7 separate regions of the Homo sapiens genome follow, and regions 2, 3, 4, 5, 6 and 7 are each reported to be linked to region 1. The links are microRNA targets in miRTarBase. Many come from high-throughput screens and were not tested one by one. Region 1 holds a microRNA gene; each other region holds the end of a gene's coding sequence.

Evidence for each region. The annotated mature microRNA hsa-miR-629-3p reads GUUCUCCCAACGUAAGCCCAGC and lies in region 1 at 2,152-2,173, opposite strand. An mRNA with a match to its seed (bases 2 to 7 or 8) in the 3' UTR can be bound and repressed. Matches are read on the target gene's strand: a 7mer-m8 pairs with bases 2 to 8, a 7mer-A1 pairs with bases 2 to 7 and ends in A, and an 8mer does both.
Region 2: the mRNA of MUC17 is a reported target of hsa-miR-629-3p. Seed matches in the 3' UTR shown: 7mer-A1 at 2,426-2,432.
Region 3: the mRNA of BCL2L13 is a reported target of hsa-miR-629-3p. The part of its 3' UTR that is shown has no 7-base or 8-base seed match.
Region 4: the mRNA of TMEM50A is a reported target of hsa-miR-629-3p. Seed matches in the 3' UTR shown: 8mer at 1,920-1,927.
Region 5: the mRNA of STMN1 is a reported target of hsa-miR-629-3p. Seed matches in the 3' UTR shown: 8mer at 595-602.
Region 6: miRTarBase lists TESMIN as a target of hsa-miR-629-3p. The part of its 3' UTR that is shown has no 7-base or 8-base seed match.
Region 7: the mRNA of MRPS27 is a reported target of hsa-miR-629-3p. Seed matches in the 3' UTR shown: 8mer at 2,165-2,172, 8mer at 1,624-1,631 and 7mer-A1 at 1,527-1,533.

The regions. Positions count from the first base shown.
Region 1 is chr15:70,077,236-70,080,330 of GRCh38, forward strand. It overlaps MIR629 (microRNA 629), which reads right to left and starts at 2,233; the gene lies at 2,137-2,233. The region is part of intron 4 of TLE3 (TLE family member 3, transcriptional corepressor); the gene reads right to left. RefSeq lists enhancers at 1,084-1,690, 1,691-2,297.
Region 2 is chr7:101,057,614-101,060,613 of GRCh38, reverse strand. MUC17 (mucin 17, cell surface associated) reads right to left here. Exons shown (of 13, transcript NM_001040105.2): 13 at 1,755-2,611. The coding sequence ends at 2,570. It also overlaps the pseudogene RN7SKP54. Among named protein-coding and RNA genes, the nearest start is that of TRIM56, 26 kb to the left of the region's middle.
Region 3 is chr22:17,727,299-17,730,393 of GRCh38, reverse strand. BCL2L13 (BCL2 like 13) reads right to left here. Exons shown (of 7, transcript NM_015367.4): 7 at 1-3,095. The coding sequence ends at 2,860. Among named protein-coding and RNA genes, the nearest start is that of MIR3198-1, 35 kb to the left of the region's middle.
Region 4 is chr1:25,360,185-25,363,279 of GRCh38, forward strand. It overlaps TMEM50A (transmembrane protein 50A), which reads left to right. Exons shown (of 7, transcript NM_014313.4): 7 at 476-2,177. The coding sequence ends at 521. RHCE (Rh blood group CcEe antigens) reads right to left here. Exons shown (of 10, transcript NM_020485.8): 10 at 2,065-2,369. The coding sequence ends at 2,343. Among named protein-coding and RNA genes, the nearest start is that of TMEM50A, 23 kb to the left of the region's middle.
Region 5 is chr1:25,898,347-25,901,441 of GRCh38, reverse strand. It overlaps STMN1 (stathmin 1), which reads left to right. Exons shown (of 5, transcript NM_005563.4): 5 at 355-1,326. The coding sequence ends at 426. Among named protein-coding and RNA genes, the nearest start is that of STMN1, 6.5 kb to the left of the region's middle.
Region 6 is chr11:68,705,756-68,708,850 of GRCh38, reverse strand. It overlaps TESMIN (testis expressed metallothionein like protein), which reads left to right. Exons shown (of 10, transcript NM_004923.3): 10 at 351-1,411. The coding sequence ends at 543. Among named protein-coding and RNA genes, the nearest start is that of GAL, 23 kb to the right of the region's middle. RefSeq lists an enhancer at 1,374-2,132.
Region 7 is chr5:72,218,417-72,221,511 of GRCh38, forward strand. It overlaps MRPS27 (mitochondrial ribosomal protein S27), which reads right to left. Exons shown (of 11, transcript NM_015084.3): 11 at 987-2,732. The coding sequence ends at 2,493. Among named protein-coding and RNA genes, the nearest start is that of MIR4803, 50 kb to the left of the region's middle.

The sequences.
Region 1 (3,095 bases):
TACGGGTTAACTGAGTCCAGATAGAAAGGCCTAGAACCACTGACAGACGACTCTCAGAATTGCTTTTCTTATCTCATTCTGAATCCTGAGCCCGCCAGGACTGAGGTCCCAAAGCTGGCTTCAAAGCTTTCATCAGCACATAGCAATCTTTCAGAGACAAAACCATGACAACAGCCTTTAAAAATCTGTGATCATCTGCATGTCAAATGATTCTGGATGAGAAATCCTTGTGCACTTAAAATAAAAACAATCTGAAGGCGCATAAATAGACCCTGGACCTCGGGAGAATTCCTTGGGCTAACACCCTCCACCCCCTCCACCCTTGGCCACTAAAGAGGACGCCTCTGGTTTGTGGAAAGGCAGGCCATCAACTAAAGAGCCTTATGGGTTTTTGCAGGCCTGTGTCCTGGGCTGCCAGCCACGGTGGCAGGGCTCGCCAACCTACGGAGCCTGTCCGCTACAGTGGGGGTTCCTGGCAGGGAGAGGATCAGGAATCACTGCTGTCAGCTTTCTGCCTAGAACACTCTAGCTCCTCAGGAACAGAGTCAGTGTTTCCCAGCCAGCACCACTGTTGGCATTTGGGGAGAGACAATTCCTGTTATAAAGGACTGTCGCTCATATCCCAGGCCAACTGTGTCAACAATGGCCCCCACTTCCAAACTGCCCAGCTCAGACCCACTGGGACTCCACATTGACACATGTGTGGGGCACTCTAGCCAGGACACCATACATCAGGGTTTCTCAAACACCATGCTATTGACATCTGAGGTCAGATAATTCACTGCTGTGTGGAGCCCGTTCTGTGCACTGCAGGGCTTTTAAAAGCATCCCTGGCCTCTCCACCCACTAGACACCCGTCATTCATACTCTAAGGAACCCAGGAGGATTACTAAATAATCATTATATAAATTGTTAATCTAGTTAAGTGGGAAGAGCTCTCCCAAACAGGGTCCTTCCTCACTCTGCTTATTTTTTCCTCGCCTAAATCAACTGATAGTAGGAATGGGGAATGAAGCAAAAAAGTCCGGGTTGGATAGGGCAGGAGTTCTAGAAACAAGCATAGGCTGCAGCTCACTCCAAACCGGCAGAGTAACAAGTTCTCTCACCTTTGAGTTCATGCACCAAATAAGAATAGAAAGATATGTAAAAAACAAAAAGCAAACAAAAATAAACAAAAAAAACCAACCTTACTGTTTAGGAAGCTCACAGGTCCAAGGCCTGTTATCTTAAACAACAATAGAGCAGTGTCTGGCACACAGTAGCTGCTCCGTAAATGTTTGGCCCAAAGAATAGTATCACTGGCATCTCTGCATTTATTGAGACTTCATATTGCAGTGACCCCTTGCTGTGGATCTGGGCCTGCCCCAGCATGGGCAGCATCTGTGGGAGGGGCCGTGGTGGATGGAGTGTTGACATACACTTGGTGGCCAGTGGCCCAAGCCCTTCACCAACGGGGTGGGGTGGCACCTCCAAGCCAGGCCAATCGCAAGCCACCTAGATGGGTCCCTGGCCACTACTCCTCCCCACAGCCAGGAAGGCAGGGGCAAGGTCAGAACATCCCCAGTCATTCTGGCCTCCTCAGCAACTATTAACTCTCACAGTCTCTGGGAGAGCAGGGAGGCAGGGTGATTATAAAAGGGTTCTGGCTATGGCCTCCTTCCACTGGTAAACAGGCCAAGGGTCAGGGTCTCGGGAGTTGACAAAAAAGAAACGTAGCTGACCTTGCCCTTCCCCACACCCTTCAGCAAACACGTGGCCAAAGGCTTCCCACAGACAGGATCTTCCCATAGGGCTGGTCTGGAGCCCAGCTCACTCTGGTTATGAGGACAACGGATCTCCCAGGATTTATGTAGCCATCCGGGCCATCAGGTGACCACAGCTGGGTGGCTCAGGGCAAGTCCTCTCTCATTCTCACCCCTCCACCCTCCTAAAGTAGTTCCTGCCTCCCAACACCACAAACAAGCATCAACTGAGGGCTATCGCAACAATGCCACACAGATGCAGAACCTTCCACAAGCCTGGGGTAGTGGCATTCAGGCTGTCTTTCCTGAGGCCCATGTTCGACGAAGAGAGGCCTCTCTGCAAGGCAGGAAGGACTTTGGCACGTCACCAGACAGGACTGTGTAGGGTTGAGGCAGGCAGAGGGGAGGGGCTGGGCTTACGTTGGGAGAACCTCCTGGTTCACCGTAAAAGTTCTCCCAACGTAAACCCAGCCCCTCCCCTGGGAAAGGGACATGAAGCAAGCACATCCCATCCCTCCCAGCTGTCACTGTGCCATCATCTGCTAGTACCCTCTTGGGGTCTCCCCACAAAGTGGAAGCAGGGATTGGGCCTCCCCCATCTCTACAAAGGCTGCCCAACCCTGAGAATGGGCTGCGTGCACTCTGCAGAGTCAAAGCATGAACAGGAAAGCTGTTCGCTCAACATTTTAAAGAAATGTTTATTTTTTGGAGGGTGGCGCTTGGGGGAGGGGAAGTTCCTGGAAATGGAAAGCTGGCTTAACAGAAGCCCTCCTAACAACAGTAATGACCGCTGATATCACCCACCCAACTCGCCATGTGTGCATCCACAATAACCCCGCGGAGAAGGCGCTTGTCAACATCTCCACTTTTCAGATGGGGAAACTGATGCCCAGCCATTAAGTGATTTCACTAAATGACTTCCTACCAAGAAGCCAAATTTTGACATTTCAAGAGAGCTTAGAGAAATATTTTTGAAAGAAAAACCACCATTAAGGTTAATAATTGACAGCACTTCTGATTAGAACAGCTGTTAAAACAGCATTGGATCCAACTCAAACAAGCTCTAAACATCAGTTCCAAAAAAGGAAAAAAAAAAAAAAAAATCAAGTGTGACTTCAACAATTGGGACAGGTCACAAATCACAAACTGGAACTCGATCGTATGTTGGAAAACTCCTTTTGGCAACTTGGCGCAATCCGTTATCGATAAGGCGGCTGTAGTTTCCAGAGGCCGACCTCCATCCTTCCCTCCATCTCGGTCCCACAAAGCCACTGCTTTTGAGCCAGGTCTTCAGAAGCGAATCTGAGAGGTGGTGGGAGGTGGGAAGATGGCTCCCTTTGGAAAGCACTTTGG
Region 2 (3,000 bases), not on the chromosome of region 1:
ACCTATTGGGTACTATGCTCACTACCTGTGTGACAGATTTATTCATACTCTAAGCCTCAGCACCACACAATATACCTTTGAAACAAACCTGCACATGTACCCCTTGAGTCTAAAATTAAAAAAAAAAAGGTCAGGTTCGTGGTAATTTTTTATTTGTAACTTTTCTAATTTTTAATTTCCAATTTTGCTTAATTCGAAAAAATACATACCACTTTAGAGCAAATAGGACACAACGTTAACAACTGATAACTCCAGGTGAAGGTTATATGGGGTTCACTGTTATATATACATATATATGTGTAATTTTTTTTTTTTTTTAAGACAGACTCTCTCTGTCACCCAGGCTGGAATGCAGTGGTACGATCTCCGCTCACTGCAACCTCCGCCTCCCAGGTTCAAGCCATTCTCCTGCCTCAGCCTCCTAAGTAAGTGGGATTACAGGCATGCGCCACCATTCCCGGCTAGTTTTTGTATTTTTAATAGAGTCAGGGTTTTACCATGTTGGCCAGGCTGGTCTTGAACTCCTGACCTCAGGTGATCCGCCTGCCTCGGCCTCCCAAAGTGCTGGGATTACAGGCGTGAGCCACCACGCCCAGGTAGGGTTCACTTTTTTAACTTTATTGTTTTAACTTCCCTGTAGATTTGCAAATTTTCAAAATTAAAAAAAAAAAAAAAGGCCGGGCATAGTGGCTCATGCCTGGAATCCCAGCATTTTGGGAGACAGAAGTGGTTGGATCGTTTGAGCCTAGGAATTCAAGACCAGCCTGGACAATACAGCGAAACCCCGTCTCTACGAAAAAATTAAAAATTAGCCGGGCGTGGTGGCCGGCATCTGTGGTCTCAGTTACTTGGGAGGCTGAGGCTGGAGGAATTCTTGAGCCCAGGAGCTCAAGGTTGCAGTGAGCAGTGATCACACCACTGTGCTTTGGCCTTTGCGAAAGAGTGAGACTTTGTTTCAAAAAAAGGAAAAGAAAAGAAACAGAATTTTGATGGCAAATATGGAAATGATCAAGTGTAACGGAATATTTTTGTCACAGGAGAGGCCAGAAGGGGACCGCTGAGAAACGGCATGGTGCCTGCAGGTGCTCAGAGTGTCCAGTAGGGGGAAGCAGAGTCCAGGTTCTGTCTCAGGTTAGGCTTTGAAGCGGGTGGCGGGTGGGACAGACTTTCAAGAATACAATGAATCCTGAGCGGCATGGCTGGAATAACAATAATTATTAAAAAGCGTCCTAGGAATATTAAGAAGGACAGCGATGAAAGAGGCTTTAGAAATAACCTAGTCCTTATTCGGCAGAAGGCAAGACTGAGTCCAAATAGATTTTTCCCAGATTTAACCCAAGGAATTCACGAGAAAGCTTGAAATAGAACCCAGGTCTCTATCTCTTTAGATGTATGGAAAGAAATAAAAGCCCGTTTTCAGAAGGAGAGCTTGCAAAATTTGGTTTTCTTTGGTAGGAAGTGAGTCTCTCTCTCTCTCTCTCTCTCTCTCTCTCTCTCTCTCTCTCTCCCCCCCCCCCCTCTGTGTGTATGTGTATATGTGTGTGTGTGTCTGTCTGTCTGTCTGCCTTGCCTCTTGGACACCAGCAAATGGTGTCAGTGGAGTTCAAGGAATGGTCCTCTTTCCACTGCAAATCTCTCTCTTGTTGTCTTGAACCCCAAAAGCATCCGATTTTATGTTCTGGAGGAGAGAGAGAGAGTCTGGGAGGTTAGAAACAGGAGCTATGGGAAACAGGAGGAAAGATCTGGGAACCATGAAAATTGTAATAAAATTGCTTTATTATTTTTAGTTACTACAAATATATATTATAATATTTACTAAGGAAAAAATCAGAACTCATAACAATAAGAACTTAAAAAATACCCACAATCTTATATACCAAAAGGTAAATGCTCTATATTTAAATACAGGTGTTTTTCATGAAGATGGTATGCAATAATTCTTATGAGAGCATTTTGTGATATGTAAAGTGCATGCAGTCCAGTGTCCAAGGGGTCATGGTTGTAAACAGCGGGTCGAGGGCGCTGTCCATGGTACTGAACCCGGGCAGATGAGGGGAGGAACATCTCTGAGCTTGTTTGGAAGTGCTAGCAGGGAAGTCCAGATAGATACTTGTATGCCTTTGACTGAAGCGTGGTCCTCCTCTATCAGAGAAGGTCGTCCTCTCGTCCTCTTCAACTGAGCATGCAGCTTTAGGAGGGACACATATGGGGCAGTGAGGGAGGACGGGGACACCCGCCTGCTCAGCCAGATCAACCAAATCAATCCTGGCGATCAATGGGGTGAAAGATGTTGCAGTCAGAGTACCCTCAAATCTGGAGCGTCTTTGAAAAATGAGCAGGAAAGCCTAGCCTGATATCATGACAAGCCCATTGGAGCGTCCACGGGTTTCTATTTGAGAATCTCCCAGCACTGCTGTCTCTCCTCTTTCTCCTTGGTAAGTACAGGGCTTGTTTCCTGTACTTACAATGGGAACATTGAGTTCCCATGGAAGGCTCTCAATGGGAAAATGCTCCACCAAGCTTAGCCGGACTGGGATCTCCTCACTCCCAGACTTCTCAGCTCCATGCCTTAAAATGATGTCGTCATTACCTGAGGCCTCTGAATTCGGATCTGAAAAGAGAGATAAAACCAAGTGAGGGCTCAGCCCATGAGGAATTTGGGATTCTGGAAGCATAAGGAGGATTGGGATAGGAAGTGTTCTGTTTAATTATTTTTATTTTTTATTATTTTTTTGAGACAGGGTCTTACTCTGCCATCCAGGCTGGAGTGCAGTGGCACAATCACGGCTCACCATGGCCTGTAACTTCTGGCCTCAAGCAATCCTCCCACCTCAGCCTCCCAAGTAGCTAGGACTACATGTGCACACAACCACACCTGAATAATTTTTAAATTTTTTGTAGAGATGAGGTTTCACTATGTTGCCCAGGGTGATCTCAAACTCCTGGGCTCAAGCAATCCATCCACTTCGACCTCCCCAAGTGCCGGGATTACAGGTGTGA
Region 3 (3,095 bases), not on the chromosome of region 1:
TGGCTGCATCTGGTATCCCTGGGACAGAAATGCAGGTGAGAAGGGGTATCAAGAATGCCTCGAGGGGGAGATGGGTGAACCAGAAGGTCAACAGTTGCATTTCTTCATCTAGAATGTTCTCTAGAAGGGAATGATGATCATGAGAGTCCCCTTAAGGCACACCGCAGGTACTGACTGATTTCTGTGGGCCCAGAATTATCACTTTAATACAGAGAGGATAAATTGGCGTTGTTTTTTCCCCCCAATAAATCATTACCTTCAACAGAGCAGTTGAGATGAGGTCTAAGGACTAACAAGAACTTTTCTATAAACAAGTTGGATTTATTCTGAATCTTTCCTTCACCTTAGACTTAGAGGGTATAAGTTGGAGGTGGAAGGAATGGCCTCCTACTATCAGCTCCTCCCCCCAAAAGGAGGGGAAGCTTGAGAAATAGTTTTTTAAATGTATGAGCAAAAAGCAGGAGCTGCAGTAGGAAGCAGTCCTCATGAGGGCTGTTCCCTTCCACTGCTGGAGGCAGAGGGTGAGGACGTGAAGGAAGAACAGGGATGCTGCCACATCCTGTTAACTCAGGAGCTGACCAAGAGCTACCAGAGAAAGCCAATGGAAAACACTATCTAGTTCCATTACCGTGAAATACAACTGGCCAAATCACTGTGGAGGAATGTCTAACAGGTGGGAAAATAAAGCAGCAAGTAGCCGCTTCCATACCACATTTCTTCCTTATTCTTTCCTTTCGTGGGCAACACAGGCTCCAATTTCCTAAGCCTCACACCTCCTTTCAGCAGCTCAGAGATGAACCTGGCTTCGATTGGTGCTTGAATGCGCTCAGCCAATGGGTGTGAGGATCCAGAACTGGCAAGTGTTAATACTGGAACTCATAGGATTTATTACTTTTTAAAAATCAAGATAACGCACCAGTTTGCTCTTCACCTATGCAAACACAAATATAGCAATTAGAATACAGAACAATCAATGCAACTATCAGAGCCCATGAAGAAAAAAATCATTGCCTCAATAATCCCATTCCCCCCACTCACCTCTAATTACTTAATCCAAGTACACAAAAACCCTTAAAACATCACTCCCTAAATGGGACACTAAAACACAGAACAAAGACACGCTACAGGATAAAGCTGGAAAGACACACAAACATACTCCCAGACCTTGTTTTGACCAATTTTTAAATATTGCTTTAGGGAGATTTTATTTGAAAACATAAATTTCAAAAAGAAAGCACATTTAAAACATCAGGTTTTGGTGATCAGGGTAGGTAAAGTATTTTTATTATAAATTTCAAGATCTAAAAAATAATTTATTACATTTACTAAGATAAATCTAAGATGACCTTTTTAAACCAAGCCACGTGTGCCCTGCATAGTGACGTCGTGGCCCTCGGGCATGGAAAGACACGGGTCTGCCCTTCCTTTAGGGCTGGAAAGACACGGGTCTACCCTTCCTTTAGGGCTGGAAAGACACGGGTCTACCCTTCCTTTAGGGCTGGGATCAGCCAGAGGAAAGAAAATTATGCCGATGCTCAACTAGCATATACTGATTAGGACTATTTTGGTTTATTACCCTGGCATTGAAGAATTCAGGTGAAGATGCCACCACTCTTGAACTCTGAAAGCCAAACTAGAATCTGCAGAGCAGCCTCAGTCTTAAAATTCAAGCTTCTTTTTCCTACTTTTTATTTCAGTGATATTTAGGACACTCTCTATTTCATAAGAATTATGATCTAACTGGCTCTATAAGCCCAAGAATAAAAATCCTTACCCCCTAGCAAGAGACCCATAGAACTCATCAGTAGTAAGACTAAGGTCCCATATTGGAAAAAATATACTAGCCCAAGGTTATAGACAGGGACCATCCAGCAATAGAGATGTTGCTGGCAAGTAACCATGGTGGTGGGTGACCACTAGCGAAAAGGGCTGAAGAGACCTCAGAAGGTCATCCAGGTTATCCTCCTGCCTTGACACAAGACACATGTGTCTCTCTAGCCAGAGTTACTTGCAGTTGCACTCACAAGTGGGGACCCCAGGTCTCCTTCATGTGATTTTCTCTGTGTACATATTTCGAAGATTCCCAAAGGCAGCATTTTTACAAGGTGGAGCTGCAGGAAGCTTCGGGGACTTGACAGACTGAGTCCAGAGCAAGCCCTCGCCCGTGGGATCTTAGCAGGAACCTGGGGGTGAAGAGGAACAGTGCAGTCCCTGAGAGGCAGCTGAGAGTACGGGCGAGCACCCTCACACTCCAGGATGAGGGCGGGGGGCAAAAAAAGAGTGGGTGCAGAGCCTGCTCATCGAGAAAGATGAAATTCTAAGGGGATTAAGAGCTAAGAAGTCAGTAGCTGAGGAGCCCACAGCTAAGTTCTCTCAGCTGGGAATTTCTATCCCAATTCTTCCTAAGTAAACCCTCTCTCGCTAAAGCAGTGGGTCTCAATAGGGGATGTTCACACGGGACATTTGGCAATGTCTAGAGACATTTTCGTTTGTCATCTCTGGGAGGGGGTGCCACTGGCATCTAGTGGGTGGAGCCCACCACACACAGGACAGCCCCAACACAGAGAATGGTCAGAACAGCACTAGTGCCAAGGCTGAGAAACCCGGTCCTGGAGGGGGTGCTTTACCCCTAAGATTCTCAATTTAGCATGAGCGGAGGCCCTTGGGATTTACAGTCAGATGAATGTGAATGCCCCACCTCAAGCCCTAACATGCCTAACATGCCACTGCCATGTTGAGCAGAAGTCCCCAATTATCCCAGAGTGTTCCACAAATGTCCAGACAGCTGCTGGAGGTTCAAATTCCAGCCAATACAACTCCAACCTTACATCCTTCTGTCTTTCTCTTCTGAAAAGCCTCCTATTTCTTTCTCAGAGCCAGGGCTACCCCGATGGCCACTGCCAGGATGGCAACAGCAGCAGCCCCTCCAAACAGCAGTATAGACTTGCCCTCAGACAGCGGCATGGGCTTCATCTCACCGGCGGGGGACAGTCTAGACTTGCCCTCAGACGGCGGCACGGGCTTCTTCTCGCTGGCAGGGGACAGCTCTTCCACAAGGCTCTCTTCCCTTGCGTTTATCTCCTTCTCACTCAGCA
Region 4 (3,095 bases), not on the chromosome of region 1:
TAAAAATACAAAAAATTAGCCGGGTATGGTGGCGGGTGCCTGTAGTCCCAGCTACTCAGGAGGCAGAGGCAGGAGAATGGCATGAACCCGGGAGGCAGAGCTTGCAGTGAGCCGAGATCACGCCACTGCACTCCAGCCTGGGCGACAGAGCAAGACTCTGTCTCAAAAAAAAAAAAAAAAATCAGACATATAATGGTTACATAGTAAACACTGGTAACTTTTTAAAAGTCACATGTGTATTCAGTACTTGAAAGTTAAGGTTGTTGGGAATATGGTGGTTAATAGCACAGTTGAACATAATGGAAGAATTCACTACCTTAGAATGATCAGTTTCTGTTTTGATACATTTCGTACCAAAATTTCTTCTACAACTCATCAATTATTCTTCGTTGTTTGTTTCACACCATTCTCGAAATCTCACATACTCTTTTCTCAAATTCAGGGAGTCATGTGATATTTCTTGTTTTATTCACAGAGGGCTGGTTTTTAAGTTTGGCCGCACTGAAGACTTATGGCAGTGAACACATCTGATTTCCCACAGCACAACAGCCCTGCATGGGTTTGTTTGTTTTTTTACTGCTCACTCCCAACCTTTTGTAATGCCATTTTCTAAACTTATTTCTGAGTGTAGTCTCAGCTTAAAGTTGTGTAATACTAAAATCACGAGAACACCTAAACAACAACCAAAAATCTATTGTGGTATGCACTTGATTAACTTATAAAATGTTAGAGGAAACTTTCACATGAATAATTTTTGTCAAATTTTATCATGGTATAATTTGTAAAAATAAAAAGAAATTACAAAAGAAATTATGGATTTGTCAATGTAAGTATTTGTCATATCTGAGGTCCAAAACCACAATGAAAGTGCTCTGAAGATTTAATGTGTTTATTCAAATGTGGTCTCTTCTGTGTCAAATGTTAAATGAAATATAAACATTTTTTAGTTTTTAAAATATTCCGTGGTCAAAATTCTTCCTCACTATAATTGGTATTTACTTTTACCAAAAATTCTGTGAACATGTAATGTAACTGGCTTTTGAGGGTCTCCCAAGGGGTGAGTGGACGTGTTGGAAGAGAGAAGCACCATGGTCCAGCCACCAGGCTCCCTGTGTCCCTTCCATGGGAAGGTCTTCCGCTGTGCCTCTCATTCCAAGGGCAGGAAGATGTGACTCAGCCATGACACGTGGTTCTGGTGGGATGCACAGTCACTCCACATCCACCATTGAAGGAAAGGAAAAAAGGGCAGAGACTTGACACTCCAGTCTTAGACAGGGGACAATTTCTTTGTAGTTGTTCTGATAATAAACTGGGTTCCATGTTGCATTTCATCTGTGTACTGAACCACTAGCCTAATAGACCAGCACGGTCAACTAGAATGACAAACATTAGCTACTGGGAACTCTTGTTGTCTCTTCCTCTTCAGAACTCTTGTCCCCCCAGGCTCCCCACCTCTGCAAGATGGGATACACTCTTCAGGACCACAGTTTGAAATGTCTTTCATAAAATGTGCTACAATTAGCCTTCGGAATATTTGCTGGGTGATTTAAATGTGTGGGTCTCATTTCCATGCTAGCCATGGTCATCTGACAGTCTCTACACTGTGAATATTGCCTGGTGATCAAGACTCTCCTCAAAGAAATGACTTGCTGTCATCCCACATGAACTCCTGATGTTTTTTCTACAAAAGTCCATAAAATGTGAAAACTGGAGAAGATCTTAGAGGTTGAAGCCCACCTTCTCTTTTCACATAGGAGGGAACAGACCATGGAAATTTAAACGACTTCCTCACGGTCACAGAACTAGTTTTTTAATCCTCAGGCAGTGCATCCCCCCACCCTACAACTGAGCACAACCTCTTTCCCCACAGTGCAATTCAGAATATGCTCAGGGAATGCCAGCCACCTTGTAAAACTGCTGGGAGAAAAGCATGATTCCCACAAGGACTAAGTATCAGTGATTTGTAATTTTCCTGTTTTGTATTATCTGCTTTGCTGATGTAGACAAGAGTTAACTGAGTAGCATGCTTTATTAAGCATGAGAAAGAATCTTAAGAATTGTCAATAAAATTAACCCAAAACTTTAATAATGTGTCTGTAACCAAGAAAATATTGATAGCATCATCCTAATGAAACTAAACATTTATTTTAAACTTATTAAATTGACTCTTAAACTAAGTTTTTAGTCTTTAATTTTTTAATATCAAATCTGTCTCTGACCTTGTTTCATTATACATAAGGAGACTTTGCTGTCATGAGCGTTTCTCACGTACAAATGCAGGCAACAGTGAGAGGAAGTTGTCTTGTTTTTGAACAGGCCTTGTTTTTCTTGGATGCTTTTGCTTAAAATCCAACAGCCAAATGAGGAAACTGTAAAAGCAAAACAAACATTTTTATTGCAGATGAACCCACATACTGATTTTGGCTTGATCTCTTGAAACAGCCTAAATGTCTCATTACAAAGACCTTAGAAATTCTTTCATAAAATCTGAATTGGAAGAGATCTTGGATATATAGGTTTTATTTCATCTAACGTTTTACATGGATTGTTGATAAATGGCCATCTGGCTTTTATTTGAATGCCTCCAAAGACAGAGGACTCACTACTGCCATATGAAGTAGCTCATTCCATTTGGCAGACAGTTGAGATTGTTAGAAATTTATACTGCACCTCCCCTGGGCCTAGTTAAATTCTTTGGAGAAGTGTAGAGAAAAAGTATTTTTCTTCTACATGCCAGTTTTTTTTTTGGTTTTGTTTGGTTGGTTGTTTGTTTTGTTTGAGATGGAGTTTCGCTCTTGTCTCAGGCTGGAGTGCAGTGATGCAATCTCAGCTCACTGCAACCTCTGCCTCCCGGGTTCAAGCAATTCTGCCTCAACCACCGGAGTAGCTGGGATTACAGGCACCCGCCACCATGCCCAGCTAATGTTTGTATTTTTTAGTAGAGACGGGGTTTCACCTTGTTGGTCAGGCTGGTATCAAACTCCCAAACTCAGGTGATCCACCCGCCTCGACCTCCAAAACTGCTGGGATTACAGGCGTGAGTCACTGCGCCCGGCCTACATGCCGGTCTTTCAAGTGTTCGAAGAGCCTTCTTA
Region 5 (3,095 bases), not on the chromosome of region 1:
ATGAGTTGGCTTGAACTAAGTGCTTTGATAAAAGGTGTTTGGTGTCTTTTTGTCATCCATTTTGGGGCTTAACATATTAAATGAAAGGTATATTTTAAGATGGAATATTCAGTAATTCCCAGCATAATTGCACAGTCCTTGGAAGTCCAGTAGGCAGCTTGTTAGGTTCTACAAGGGACCCAGGAGATTTGATGATGATGTCTCAGAACTTAAATTGTGTGGTTCCCACAGGCTGTAATATATGCACTGAGGTTGTGTTGGGCCTCTTTGAGGTGGGGGCTGGGGGTCGTGACTTGACAGGCTTTTTTTTTTTTTTTTTTTTTTGACTGATGACACCTTACCCTTCCTTTACAGGATAAGCACATTGAAGAAGTGCGGAAGAACAAAGAATCCAAAGACCCTGCTGACGAGACTGAAGCTGACTAATTTGTTCTGAGAACTGACTTTCTCCCCATCCCCTTCCTAAATATCCAAAGACTGTACTGGCCAGTGTCATTTTATTTTTTCCCTCCTGACAAATATTTTAGAAGCTAATGTAGGACTGTATAGGTAGATCCAGATCCAGACTGTAAGATGTTGTTTTAGGGGCTAAAGGGGAGAAACTGAAAGTGTTTTACTCTTTTTCTAAAGTGTTGGTCTTTCTAATGTAGCTATTTTTCTTGTTGCATCTTTTCTACTTCAGTACACTTGGTGTACTGGGTTAATGGCTAGTACTGTATTGGCTCTGTGAAAACATATTTGTGAAAAGAGTATGTAGTGGCTTCTTTTGAACTGTTAGATGCTGAATATCTGTTCACTTTTCAATCCCAATTCTGTCCCAATCTTACCAGATGCTACTGGACTTGAATGGTTAATAAAACTGCACAGTGCTGTTGGTGGCAGTGACTTCTTTTGAGTTAGGTTAATAAATCAAGCCATAGAGCCCCTCCTGGTTGATACTTGTTCCAGATGGGGCCTTTGGGGCTGGTAGAAATACCCAACGCACAAATGACCGCACGTTCTCTGCCCCGTTTCTTGCCCCAGTGTGGTTTGCATTGTCTCCTTCCACAATGACTGCTTTGTTTGGATGCCTCAGCCCAGGTCAGCTGTTACTTTCTTTCAGATGTTTATTTGCAAACAACCATTTTTTGTTCTGTGTCCCTTTTAAAAGGCAGATTAAAAGCACAAGCGTGTTTCTAGAGAACAGTTGAGAGAGAATCTCAAGATTCTACTTGGTGGTTTGCTTGCTCTACGTTACAGGTGGGGCATGTCCTCATCCTTTCCTGCCATAAAAGCTATGACACGAGAATCAGAATATTAATAAAACTTTATGTACTGCTGTAGCAACTCCTGTGAAATGACTAAAGGGAACCTTAATTATTTCTAAAGTAGCATTTGACTCGGGTGGTTAAGGTTGGCAGATACGTCATCTTGTATCCAGAGGCTGTAATAGTCCCCATTGTCAGTGCTTTGCCTCTCAATTCAGGGAACGCCTTTGGCAGCTTTCCTGTGCTATTTGAGAAATAGCCTAATTATACATATTTTGTGCCTCTCAGACATCTGTATAAAAGCTCTTGGAAGCCAAGCACTTATAGCAAAAGATGATTGCTAATACTGCGGTGGGGTCCATGTGTTGCTAACGCATGTGCCTCTGCTGCTTGGGCTGTATCTTGAGATTGGGGTTTTACCAAACTTATTCATGAGAACAATAACAGCCTACCTCAACTTACCTCCTAAGATTGTTAGGATTAAATGGGTTTGTGGCAAGAGAGCACACTTAGAACATAGATATTTAGCATTCCGTATAAATCACGATTACTGTTTTCAACCAGAGGCTAATGAGTGATCTAAGTTTATACTCTTGAGTTGGAAATTATGCAGTTTTTATATTCCTTAAATTGACTTTTAAATTTACTTAAATGATCAATCAGAGGAATTCTGAACAAAGCTTGGTTTAAGGAGTTACGCCCATGTAGGGCAAATAGGAGCAAGTGCAAGTATAGTTGAATACAACAATAGGTTCTGAGCAATATCTAAACCAAGAGGACAGGATGAGGCTTGTGTGCAGTGGTGCAGCACAGTTCATCTTGGCTCCTGTCTCTGGCACATAGCAGGTGCTCTGGGATCTTTAAAATACCAGTTCTGAATAGATGGGAATATAAAGAGGGCCTGAGGGTAGAAACTTGGCATAATGATACGAGGTGTCCTACAAGTGGCAGTGAGCTTTTGTTCATCTAAGACATTTAGGGAGGGAAACTGGCCTCAGGAGAAAGCAAGGGAAGGATCAACAGGCCTGAAAGGATGCCTCATCAGTTACCACCCATCCCATGGTGGCCCTGACTTCCTATCAGAGGGCGATCCTGAGCCCCTGCCTTGTGACAGGCTTAAGTCACAGGAAACTGAAGGGGATGCATCTTACCACAGAAATAGAAGCTCTGGCTTTTCTATTTCACCTTGACCTTTGGAGAAGCACTTAGTCCTGGGCCCCCATTTTCTCCTGGATAAAATGAGATGGTTGGGGGAGATCAGTTAAGTAACTTTCACTCCCCCATTCTTTGCATCTGGCTTGGAGTGAAGAGGAGGAGCGGTGGCACCTACGAGCTTCTGGGGAAGTGTCTCTGGGTATGCATTCCCGGGCCCGGCATTCTCTGCCATCACGGGAGTCTGCGTCTGTCCCAGTGGGGCCAGCCTCTCCCAGCAGTACTTCCAATAGATTGGCCTAATAAGGCCAGAGTGGTTTGACAAGCAGTTGGGGCTGTCACCAAGGAGCAGACTCCATTCCTTTTGTCTTGAATGGAAAATGAGGCTTGTCCCTTCCTGAGGATTTTGTACTTGGGCCTTATGGTTGACTGGGCTCAGTGGAGAGAGGTTTGAAGGACGTGAAGGAGGCCCTTAAATTAACATTTGACAAGCACCTAGATTGTGCTCCACACTGGCCTTTGCGCTAGGGATGGAGAAAAGATGGGGTGGGACCAGCATATCACGTGCCCATGTGAGGGGAAGGAGAGCTGTAGAATGCTTACTTACCTGAGGGTGAGGCTCTCGACCACATACTTGTACTCACCAGGGTGCTTTAGTGCTTTGGTGAAAGGAGTGACCACAGAGGGCTTTGTGGT
Region 6 (3,095 bases), not on the chromosome of region 1:
AACCAGGGAGTTGGAGGTTGCAGTGAGCCGAGATCGTGCCATTGCACTCCAGCCTGGCAACAGAGCAGGACTCAGTATCAAAAAAAAAAAAAGGGTCTCACTTTGTTGCCCAGGCTGGTCTCAAACTCCTGGCTTCAGACCATCCTCCTGCCTTGGCCTCCCAAGGTGCTGGGATTACAGACCACTGTGCCCAGCCTAATAGTTTCCAGTATGAGGAAGACAACGTTAGATTTTAGTGGATGATGTTCTTTAAAATAGCATGGACAAGCAATGTTCTGTTGAATATAAATAGTACTGTAGGTAGAAATGGTGCACTGTTGAGCGGCCTTTAACTGCTCTGTTTCTGACAGGCGGCCTTCCTCATGCATCTCCTGGGAGGTGGTGGAGGCCACATGCGCCTGCCTGCTTGCTCAGGGAGAAGAGGCCGAGAAAGAACACTGCTCCAAGTGCCTGGCAGAGCAGATGATCCTGGAGGAATTTGGAAGGTGCTTATCACAGATTCTCCACACTGAGTTTAAATCTAAGGGATTGAAAATGGAGTAGAGTATAAAGTGTGAATGCATGTTGATTTTGTCTTAGTCTAGAAATCTCTAGTTTAGAAAGGATGTTTAGGGGAACATGAGGCTGGCTCTGCAGCAACAACCAGGCTCCCCTGCATCCCTGGGCCCAGGGAGTTTACTCAGAGCTCTCTGAAGATGTGGCAACCCATGCCCCCTTTTCTGAGGAGGTGCATGGCCTGAGCATTGTTTGTCTGGCCCAGAGGAGAGAGCTTGGGTTCCCATAGTCCTGGGAGAGTGTCTGCAGGGCGGCGGAGGGCAGAGCAGGGCAGGGGAGGGCACAGCAGGCCCTGCGAAGGGCAGAGCGGGGCAGGGGAGGGCAGAGCAGGCCCTGCGGAGAGCTCACTCTGGTCGACTCTTCCTCTCAGAGAATGTTGCTCTGGAGGCTGCTCTGCATGAAAACCCTAATGGTTTCTTGTTTGTTTTTCAAATTATTTAGAAATAAGTTCTCCGGATGGGCTGTTGTGATACCACTTAAAATCTCTAGAGAACTACTGAACACCTAAAGATTTTCTGTAGCGTAGATATTTCCCCAGAGGCACGCGAACTGTCAGTCTTTCCTAAGGCCCCCGGGAGACGCAGGCAATGGGGCCTCGCAGGCCAGGCTTGCACCAGCATGTCTTGAGTTAGAGGACTTAAAATTATCCAGTTTCTTCTGTGTTTCTACTTGAATTGTGGAAAAGCTCTATTATCCAATTAACTTCTCCATAATTATTGTTGTAATATTATTATTGTTTGTAAAACATGGTTCACATAACTAGCTTGTGGAAACCAGCAGGTAAAATGAATTCTTAAGTTGACGCTTTTGGTTCTGTTGTAAAGCAAAGATGAATAAAAATTTCCAATGTCTTCAATTGTTGTCATTAACTTAGTAACTGAAAATGTGTTCATCTGATGAGTACCCACCCTGAAATGTATTGAGAGAATATTCTTTCATGTTTCTGCATTCATTACTAGTGTTGGCCACTTAGAGGGTGTTCAGGAAACTCAAGTACAAATGCAGCAGAGACAGAAGTGTGGCTGCCGGGCCCAGGCACTGGGCACATAAGTGAGCAAGCAACCAGGGAGGAAGCTGTCTTTTGTGGAGCTGTCTGGAACAGTCTAGTTGCAAACACAGCCACAGGAAGCCACAGAGGAGAAAAGGAAGACTGAATTCTTCCCCTTTGCAATTCCCTTTGGACCCCTGGGATCCAGAGTCTGTGGCAGAAAACCAGAGGTAAAGACATGCATTGTGAGACGTGGAACCCTCAGCCAGCCGTACACCCCACTTGCTGTGTGTGCTTTCAGTCCTGTCAGCATCGCGGCGAACAGGGAGGCGCACTGCTGGGGGAGCCACCTGGCCTCCTTCACCCTTGGGAGCTGGAAGGTGACCTGGAAATGGGGACTTTGGGAGCTGCCTCTGGGGGGGCTGCCTCCATCCTGCTGTCCCTCTCGGCAACACTGCCAACAGCAAGATCTGCCAGCCACATGAGTACTGTTAAAGTTTCTAGTAGCTACATGTAAAACTTTGAAAAGGAGCAGGTAAAATTAGTTTTAATAATCTTTTATTTATCCCAATGTATCCAAAATACTATCGTTTCAATGTGTAATCAGAATGAAAATGATTGAGATTTCACATTCCTTTATGTGTACCCAATATTTGAAATGCAGGGTGTCTTGTACTCACAGCAGGTCTCAGTTGGCACCAGCCACACCTTAAGGGTTCGGGCGCCTCAGCACAGCCCTGGGGCACCGAGTGGAGGGAGGAAAAGGGAACAATGTCCTCCAGCATTCTCCTGAGGCAACGGCTGCCTAGGGAGATCCTGAACCAGGTGTGGCCCACCCGCGGAGCCCAGAGGAAGTGTGAGCAGGGAACTCAGTGTGGGGCTGGGGATACAGGCCCCCCACTTTGCACAGGAGCCTGCGCTGGCCAAGGATGCTCTGACTGTGGCCAGGTGTACTGAGCTAACGCCTGGAGGTGAGGGAAGAGCCAACCTGGGCAGGCACGAGCCCTGCAGGGTCTTCCGGCAGAGAAGAATTCACTGAGTAGGTGCCACTTGCAGGGAATCCCGTCTGAGAAGTGAAAGCCGAGATACAGACGTGCATAAAGCCACTATGCTGACCAGAGACAGTACAGAAGATGACTACAAAGCTAGAAAATCCCATCTCTTATGTGTTTGGCGGAGAGCCAGTGCTATTTTAAAACGATATACAAATTAACATATCATGTTCTTATTTGAGAGTGTAGCTGTGCAAATTTAACCATATCTTTTTTTTTTTTTTTTTTTTTTTGAGACGGAGTCTCACTCTGTTGCCCAGGCTGAAGTGCAATGGCGCGATCTCGGCTCACTGCAACCTCCGCCTTCTGGGTTCAAGTGATTCTCCTGCCTCAGCCTCCTGAGTAGCTGAGATTACAGGCGCGCACCACCACGCCCGGCTAATTTTTGTATTTTTAGTAGAGGTGGGGTTTCACCATGTTGGCCAGGCTGGTCTTGAACTCCTGATCTCAGGTGATCCGCCCCCCTGGGCCTCCCAAAGAGCTGGGATTACAGGCGTGAG
Region 7 (3,095 bases), not on the chromosome of region 1:
TGGAAGAGAAGCAGATTCTGGAGACCAAGAGTTTGGGTGATGGGGTAAAGGCTAAGGATTAGCAGGCAGGAAATTACAGAGCAAGTTGGTTCAGCAGCAGTCATGGTACGAGACGAGCCTGGGAGAGTGGGGACTTCAGGATCTAAGATCTCGGATTCGTGATGAGGCTGGAGGTTTGGCTGTGACTATGGCAGGTCAGCTGCAGAAGGTAATTTGTTACTGGGAGATGATCCAGTTGAGGTAACCTCCAGAGGCCAGGGCACCAAGAGCAGTTTCTCCATCCACATGGAAGAAATATGGAAGATGACATCAGGGAAAGGGACAAAGGACAACTGTATTGGGAAGAGCCAATTGTGAAGGAAGGCAGGAGAGTATCCTATAGCTCAGGAGATAAGGACATGGGGAAAGGGCAGAATATTTGGAGGGGAAAGACTCCAAGAGTCCTGAGAAATGGGGCACAAGTGTGGAAGGAATCCTGAGGAGGAGGGAACATGGAAATTCCTGTGGGACCACAGTACAGTGGCAGAAGTGGTCTCTTTTGGTGAAGAAGAGAAGTAAAGTACATTGGGGCTGGAGAGGGAGGAAAAATGAAGGCAAAACGATGAGCCAAAGCCTTAACCAGATACTTCATGTTGTGACAGTCATTAATTTACTGGGCAAAAGTTGCCCTTTTGTTTGTGTTGAATGTTCCTCTTAATGTAATGAGAGAGTGGCTGAAAAACTCCTGTTGTTGGTAAACCAAAATGTTGGAACTGACTTTTGGTCACGGCCCTCTACCTAAGTAAGATTCAGCAGCTTTGCTAGTCTAAAGGGCCCTGTGTTGGATCCTGACTACTGCGGTTCTATATGGAGGCCACAGGCAGGGAGAGGAGCAGCAGGAGAGCTGCTTTGTTTCATAAAATGGGGACACTGGTACCTCCCTCATAGGGCTGCTTGGGTTTTCAGCCTACAGTTAAGTCCTTAATAAATATTAGTGGTGGCAGTTATCATTATTACAATAAATCCCATAGTTTAATGGGGGAGGGTTTAAAGTACACTCCTCAAAATCATAGTAACAATAATGAGTCCCTCTCCCTCCTCCCTTTCCCCAAAGATAAAGAGTACACTAACATGATCCCGGAACATTTATTTCCAGAGGCTTTTGATAGAAGAGCACAATCTTGAATAAAATTACACCACTGTACTTAAGGGCAACACTACATAGTAAGCAAAATCTGCTCTGAACCCTTTCACAGAAGAGACACTTCAGAAAGGAATTTTACATCTCCTGACAGTTTTACAACATTCATACCTCTGATGCACTTCAAGCCCCAACCCATCTCTCATTTTCTAACTTCTTTAACAGAAATGTGTGTTCACAAGTTGTGTGTGCATGCACATGTGCCTCTGTGTGTACACAAAAGGCTCATTTTACCTACTTGATAAATGAGCTGAGACGATGTTTTGGGAAAAAAAAAATTGGAAAAAAAATGTTACCCCAACACGATGGAGAAGCCAATCCAAAAAAGCTTCATGCTAGAGCTAGCTTTCTCCTCAGAAACTTACATCCTAAAAACATCCCTATGGGTGCCTAAAAATGGAAATCCAGTGAGTTCATGGCCTTGAGTTCACTCCTGTCCTGAATTTCTCCCAGTGCAGGTCCAGAAGGGCGAGATGTGGCAGAAAGGAGAATGTGGGAATGTGTGAGTATCCCACAGCCAGCTCACAGTGCAGCTTGCACTCAGAAAGGAGACTCAGGGACACAAGGTCTCAGGATGCACAGTTCACCTTGGCCTCATGTACCTGGGCTGGGGAGAGGGAGACCATTCAAAAGCCTGTGCTTGGCCGGGTGTGGTGGCTCACGCCTATCATCCCAGCACTTTGGGAGGCTGAGGCGGGCAGATCACTTGAGGTCAGGAGGTTGAGACCAGCCTGACCAACATGGTGAAACCCCATCTCTACTAAAAATGCAAAAATTAGAAAGGTGTGGTGGTATGCACCTGTAATCCCACCTACTAAAGGAGGCCGAGGCAGGAGAATTGCTTGAACCTGGGAGTCGGAGGTTGCAGTGAGCCAAGATTGCGCCACTGCACTCCAGCCTGGGTGACAGAATGAGACTCTGTCTCAAAAAACAAAAACAACAAAAAACAAAAGCCTGTGCTTCAACCTGACTCTTCAGCCTTGGTTTCTCCCAGTACTGTCACTGGGTCTTAGGAACTTTAATGCTCATAACTAATCCCTGTGCCCCAGGAACTCCATTATGAGCCTCAAGAGTCCTCCTTAAGGTATTCAGCTGGTGACTTCAGTCTGACCACTAGCCACCTGCATAGTTCCATAGCCCTTCTTGGCATCTCGATGGGCAGTCATGGTGCCTTGCCATGTAGGGCACATAGCCTGCTTTAAGAAAAGAAGATGGGTAGAGGAAGCTGAGGCTGTTGTCCAGGCCACTGCTGAGTCCTGGCACGGGGTTGAGTGAAGTTCTTGTGAGACAGGTGGGGCCCTGGGGGACCCTATTAGGCAGATGCCTTTGCTGCTTTCTGAGCCTGGTACTCCTGCTTCGCTTGCTCCCTCTGTTGCTGTTCTCTCTGGATCAACTGTACAAGGTCTAGATGCCACTGCTGCAGATTCTGCTCATAGGTGGCGATGTCCTCTGCTTCACAGGTGGAGAGTTTTTCCTTGACAAGCTGGGTGGTCAGACTTAAAAGACCTTCTGACTCAATTTTGCCCAGAGCTTGAAGCTTAGAATGTAAGGCCTGTTGGAAACAAATGGGAAAAATGAGAAGAAAGGTAGAGAAGTGAGAGAAAGATACAAAGAGGAAAAACTAGCCCTGAGTGACTGACTTTAGATTTGAACAAAAGTTTGCTGACTCGTAGTTTAGTCCTCATTCTAGTGGCCCAGAATGAAGTCACCTGCAAAATAACCACACATTTTGCTGGTAGAAAAAAACCATTTTGTTGGGAAATGGTCATGCTGCCTTTCATTCAGGTGCTGTTAGCTGTGGTTATTTTTTTCAGCTCAGCAATTTTGCTAAGATGCACCACATGTGATTTCTCCCCTTTCACTCAAAAACAGTAAATGGAACTCCATATGCTGTGTCTCCCTGTGTAATTTCTTG